Regions from separate parts of the Homo sapiens genome. Here region 2 is reported to be linked to region 1. Evidence: microRNA targets listed by miRTarBase, many of them from high-throughput screens and not tested one by one. Region 1 holds a microRNA gene; the other region holds the end of a gene's coding sequence.
What was found. Region 1 holds the annotated microRNA hsa-miR-3155b (CCAGGCUCUGCAGUGGGA, at 836-853, opposite strand). A microRNA usually pairs through its seed, bases 2 to 8, with sites in the 3' UTR of a target mRNA and lowers its output. Matches are read on the target gene's strand: a 7mer-m8 pairs with bases 2 to 8, a 7mer-A1 pairs with bases 2 to 7 and ends in A, and an 8mer does both.

Region 2: miRTarBase lists PBOV1 as a target of hsa-miR-3155b. Seed matches in the 3' UTR shown: 7mer-A1 at 2,192-2,198.

The regions. Positions count from the first base shown.
Region 1 is chr10:6,149,930-6,153,099 of GRCh38, reverse strand. It overlaps MIR3155A (microRNA 3155a), which reads right to left and starts at 904; the gene lies at 823-904. MIR3155B (microRNA 3155b) reads left to right here and starts at 838; the gene lies at 838-893. It also overlaps a transcript of PFKFB3 not described here. RefSeq lists an enhancer at 1,485-1,534.
Region 2 is chr6:138,215,385-138,218,384 of GRCh38, reverse strand. It overlaps PBOV1 (prostate and breast cancer overexpressed 1), which reads left to right. Exons shown (of 1, transcript NM_021635.3): 1 at 1-2,399. The coding sequence ends at 397. All of the region lies in intron 4 of ARFGEF3 (ARFGEF family member 3), which reads right to left. Among named protein-coding and RNA genes, the nearest start is that of PBOV1, 1.6 kb to the left of the region's middle.

The sequences.
Region 1 (3,170 bases):
AGCAATTCTCCTGCCTTAGCCTCCCGAGTAGCTGGGATTACAGACACCCACCACCATGCACAGCTAATTTTTTTGTATTTTTAGTAGAGATGGGGTTTCACCATGTTGATCAAGCTGGTCTCGAACTTCTGAGCTCAGGTGATCTGCCCACCTCAGCCTCCCAAAGTGCTGGGATTACAGGCGTGAGCCACCGTGCCCAGCCTCTTCTTCCTTTTTTTAAAGACAAGGTCTCTTTCTGTTGCCCGGGCTGGAGTGCAGCGGTACGATCAAGGCTCACTGCAGCCTCAACTTCCCAGGCTCAGGCAATCCTCCCACCTCAGCCTCCCAAGTAGCTGGCACTACAGGCACATGCCTCCACACCTAGCTAATTTTTTAATTTTTTATTTGTAGGGACAGGATCTCACTATGTTGCCCAGGCTGGTCTCACTCTCCTGGGCTCAAGCAATCCTCCCACCTCAGCCTCCCAAGTAGCTGGGGCTGCAGGTGTGTGCCACTGCACCTGGCATACATTTCTCGCTTTTCTACTGAATTTCCTCAGCTACCAGATCCGCAGCCCTCCTCTATTCATGGGTTCGGAATGTTCCTCGTGCAAACGTCCCAGAGAGATTTAGCCCTTGCAGGTGGCTAGTTATCGTGATGCCTTCCACCCTCCTACCAGACGCTTCCTCCCCTGCTGCCTGGCTTGGGGAGCCTCCATGGAGGCTCAGAGGCTCCACAGCAGTGTGGACGGGTAAAGCCTCCAGCAAGGCTTCTGCCTCACTTGGACCACCTAGAACTTGCCGCAGGACCTGAATCACACTGGAGACCGGCTGCAGGAACTGTTCCAGGCATCAGTTCCCACTGCAGAGCCTGGGAAGGGAGCTGTCCGGCTCCCCAGGCTCTGCAGTGGGAGGTGATGCCCGGAACAGGCATCTCAAAAGTGTGGGTCACCACCCATTAGTGGCCTTGAAATCAATTTACTGGAATAAGACCAGAATCTTTCTTAATGAAATGGAACAGACTAGAAAACATCAGCATGTACAGTATTGTCTGAGGTGAAGTATTGTTTCAGGACATTTTTTGTCTAGGCATCAAGGCAGAAACTATCAAATCAGAATTTCTGGGGCATCAGGTTTTTTTTTTTTTTAGCTCCCCAGTTAATTCTAATGTGAAGCCAGGAACAGGAGCTGCAGGAGGGCGGTTCTGTCCTTCCGAGAAACAAGGCGTCCCCACCACGGCTGTGAGCCAGTGCCTGCCGCCCGACAGCCACAGCACTGTGGCACTGAGGACCAGCTTTCCCTGAAGTCCGCCTGCATCAAACAGGTCTACCCCATGCCTAGGCAAGACCTTCCTCTTTCTCACTTCCTTTTGAAAGTCCACACTTCTCAGGGAGCGGGGAGGGTACCCTCCCGACTTCCCGTTTGCCCCTGCCTGCCTGATTGGATCTTTCTCCACTGCTGTGGCTGGACAAGCCTCTGGGACGACTTCAGCAGCCTCAGGAGAGGACTTCCAGAATCTGATCGCCAGGGGTCAGTATCTCAAGCAGACAGTCACGACAGCAGACCAACTCCACCCTAAGAAAGCACAGTTGTCAGTCACCCCTCAAACAGAGGTAGCACCCCAGTGTCCTCACCAATGCAAGGGGCCACAGCCTCTGGGAAATCTGCTTCTTGCTTCTCTGGCCGAGGACTGGGGCATACAGGACCTCACTTTCTGACAAGTGAGTGTTGAAGCCCAGGCCAGGGGGAAGTGTGTTTTTGAACTGTCATGTCAGAGCACCTTCCGGAGCTACAGCTGGAAAGGCTGCTTGCGGAAGTGCCAGGACGACCAAACCCCGCTGCTCTTCAGACACCTTGTGGCTGCCCCAACCAGAACCTTGGATGCTCCTGGGGCCACGCCCCCTAGCTCAGACCCGCACACAAGATACCACCAAGACTCATACACACTGCCAGTGGGGAGCTACGGTAAGTGGGATGGTGTTCCACAGACTGGGGCTCCCTCCCTGTGTCCGTCTCCCTGCTGTCCTGGTCCACCGTCTCAACCGCCCAGCTGGAAATCTTGGAACTCTTCCCCTGCCGTCATGAATGATAGGCAATTTTTGCTTTTTGTTGTTGTTGTTCTGAGACTGAGTTTGGCTCTGTCGCCCAGGCCAGGGTGCAGTGGCAGGATCTTGGCTCACTGCAATCTCCGCCCCCCCAGGTTCAAGCGGTTCTCCTGCCTCAGCCTCCGGAATAGCTGAAATTACAGGTGCCCGCCACCATACCTGGCTAATTGTTCATACTTTTAGTAGAGACGGGGTTTCACCATGTTGGTCAGGCTGGTCTCAAACTCCTGACGTCAAGTGATCCACTCGCCTCGGCCTCCCGAAGAGCTGGGATTACAGGCGTGAGCCACCACGCACAGCCTGGGTATTGTCTTTATTTTAAATTACGCATGGGGAAATGCCATCATCTTTCAGCATTTAGGGTTTATAAGGATTTATTATTATTGTTATTTTTGAGACAGTCTCGCTCTGTCGCCCCGGCTGGAGTGCAGTGGCCACGATTTCAGCTCACCACAACCTCCGCCTCCTAGGTTCAAGTGATTCTCGTGCCTCAGTCTCCTGAGTAGCTGGGATTACAGGCGCCCACCACCACGCCCAGTTAATTTTTGTATTTTTAGTAGAGACAGGGTTTCACCATGTTGGTCAGGCTGGTCTCGAACGCCTGGTCTGAAGTAATCCTCTGACCTTACTCAGCCGTCCAACGTGCTGGGTTACAGGCATGAGCCACCGTGCCTGGCCTATAAGGATCTTAATGTGGCTCTGCAACTACTCATTCCAAAAGAAAATGACAGATTAACCAAGTAGAAGAATTTATGAAACACTTGCTACCACCAGGTCCAATATAAGCATGAGGTATAGACCGTAACTCAAATAGCTCTCCAAGTTACCATGCAGAAAGCATTCTGAGAACAAATGAGTGTTCCGGTCTGGTTATGGGACAAGATATGCCTGCAAGAGGTGCTATGTGCATAGAATCAATGGAAAAGGTGACAGAAAAGGCATGAACTTAAAAGGCGTGAAGAGACATCCAAACCCCAAGTTTATTGCAGCGCTATTCACAACGGCCAAGACATGGAATCAACCTAGGTGTCCAACAACAGATGAATGGATACAGAAAATGTACATATACAACATGGAATACTACTCA
Region 2 (3,000 bases), not on the chromosome of region 1:
CTTAAGGAACCAGAAATATGAGGATATGCACAATATTATTCACATTTTACAGATCAGAAAATTGAGGCACAGATTAAGTAACTTCCCAAGGCTACCAGGCATTCTAGCTCCAGAAACTGTGCTCTTACCATTCTGCTACAAGGTATTTCGAAAAAAAGAAAAAGTAAAAAGAAGTCAAAAGGCAACAGAGTTCATTGATTATTCCATAGAACAGTCACACCATGCAATTCTCACACCCTTGCAGACACACTTGACCATGAAAGGTTCCTCAATGAAATGTTCCTCATTATCTTCAGAAGCCATATTATTCACATTGACTTTGCAGTTAACTCAGACCCTAGGTCTGGAATGCTGTCTTCTCTACTTATCCAAAACTATACATCCACAGATCATATAAACTCTCAGCCCTGCTGCAAAGCCTTTCCAGAAAAATAAAAATGGTTGAAAAGGCAATTCTGCTACCAATGACTGTTTAAGCCCAGCCAAGTAACTGAACCATTCCAACTTCAATTTACTTATGAAAAGAATTTGATGATGTAGGAGGTTATTTCAATTCTAAAATACAAACCCATGTTGATCTTTCTCAATCTTGAACTCATAGATTATTATCTATTATCTCAATTTAGTTTGTTATTTATCCTAGTGGGCCATTAAAAACTACCACATGTGTTTCTGTCTCTCCATTAGTCAATAACTAAACTAACGAGCAATTAGTAAGCCATGTGCCAGATGCTCCGCTAGGCACCAGAGGGATAAAAACAATACTTATAGTATACCACTAATTTTCGCTTAGTAACTAGTGAAATGTTCAAGTCATGCCTGAGTCAAGAGTTGAGGAGACATTACAATGTGTAATGGAAACCAAGGAAAGTGAAACTTTGGATAAGTGGGGACTAGTGTATTTATATATTTAATTGATTTCTGACTCTATCATTGGCCTCCAAACACAGATTGTGTTTTTCTTTGGTTTTGTTTTCTTCACTATGGGATCTTCTGTGCCCAGCACAGTGCCTGACACATAGAAAACAATCAAATATTTGCTGAATAAATGATTAAAAAATCAGAGAACTTTCCCATTCTGTTTGGATCTATAGAACATCCAGAGTAAGTGATGAGGGCCTCTGCATTTATATGCGCTTAAATTAAGATTATGTGAGAAAAGTTTAAAGACACTTAGTAGAGTGATTTTGAAATATAGTAAACACTTGGAAATGGTGGTGCTTTAAAAAGATATTAATAGATAATATGAAAATCTCCATCTCAAAAATAATGCATAAACTATTTAAAGGAAAATCACATCTCCAGGCTTTCAATGTTTGTTCATTACTTTTTCATATATTTTTACCATCTGCTGAAGGCAGTCATATCAAAGGGTAAAGAAAGATGGGAGGAAAACTCAGTAAGAATTATATTAGTCTGTTTGCAAAGTAGAAAAAGATTCTCATCACTCAACCTTATGAGCAGGAAGAGGGAAGGCTGTTTGAGAACCATTTACTTAGCAGAACCACATATTTTAGACACTTCCCTGCATTAACTGCACAAACAATATGTTTGCAAACTTGTTAGATCAACCTCCAACAACGACACATTCAGGAGTTAAATATTTTTCATCAAACATTGGATTTTTCCTTAACGCTAGAGATTGCTACAAATCTTCTGAAGGGTCTCAATGGCTTCAGGCTAAGAAGAGATTTCTCCCTGTTATAAGCAGCAAGACAAATTAGCCATTTCACTCTCAAACTTCACTAATGATCACATTCTTTCCAAAAGGAACTCTAGAAGACCAAATGCCCCGAGTTAAGAACATCAAAACTAACCATCTGAAGAAACTTCCCAAGTGTAAGACTCTGCCATTAAAACATTACCGAGAGGGGACTCAAACAGTCTTTCTTCCTTTGTCGTGTTTCTTGCTCCCAGACCAAGGCACTGACGACAGTACTGATACATAATTTAAAAGCACACTCCCTTCCACTTTGTAATACCAGAACTCTAATTGGACACCCTGAAGCTTAGGACTACCAGCCATACAAATAGTAAACTCTGTCCACGATTCACTCATCTGTGTATTTTCTATAGATGTTTACTAGGCGTTTGTTATATAAAAATACCCCGGCCAGGCACGGTGGCTCACGCCTGTAATCCCAGCACTTTGGGAGGTGGGTGGATCACCTGAGGTCGGGAGTTCGAGACCAGCCTGACCAGCATGGTGGAACCCCCATCTCTACTAAAAACACAAAAAATTAGCCGGGCGTGGTGGCACATGCCTGTAATCCCAGCTACTCAGGAGGCTGAGGCGGAGAATTGCTTGAACCCGGAAGGTGGAGGTTGCGGTGAGCTGAGATTGCACTATTGCACTCCAGCCTGGGCAACAGGAGTAAAACTCCCCCCCACCCAAAAAAAAAAACAACAACAACAAAAAACCAAAAAACCAAAAAACCAATGGTAAATTACACTCTTTCCCTTTCCCCAACACTCTCTCTCTCTCTCTCTCTCTTTCACACACACACACACACACACACACACACACACACACACACACACACCAGACCGATTAGCTAACTTAGTGGAAAAGACACTTAGATTCCTTCTTCATATGTGAATTTAGCTCACAGGACTAGTGAGGGAATATCATTATCACGGGAAGACACAGAAACCACACAGGACTCTGAGCCACTCCTAGTTTTACCCCTCCTTAGCCTGTGACTTGGCTTTTCTGCTCCATCATCTACACAAGAAGAATAGCAGTGACTAGCACCCACAAGCCTCTCAGGATAGACTTGGCAGGCAAGGTAACCCACCACTTAAGAGCACAGGTTTAACTCCAGGCTGAATACTGCCCTGGTCATTTCACTAGCTGTGTGACCTTAGTATCAATATGTCTGGTGCATAAAAAATGTTAAATGATAAGCCCCTGTCATTTCTCCTTTAAAAATTGCAAAGCACTCTACGAATATTCACTTCTATTATCTAAAAATGCACATAAAAAAGACACCCAGTAAT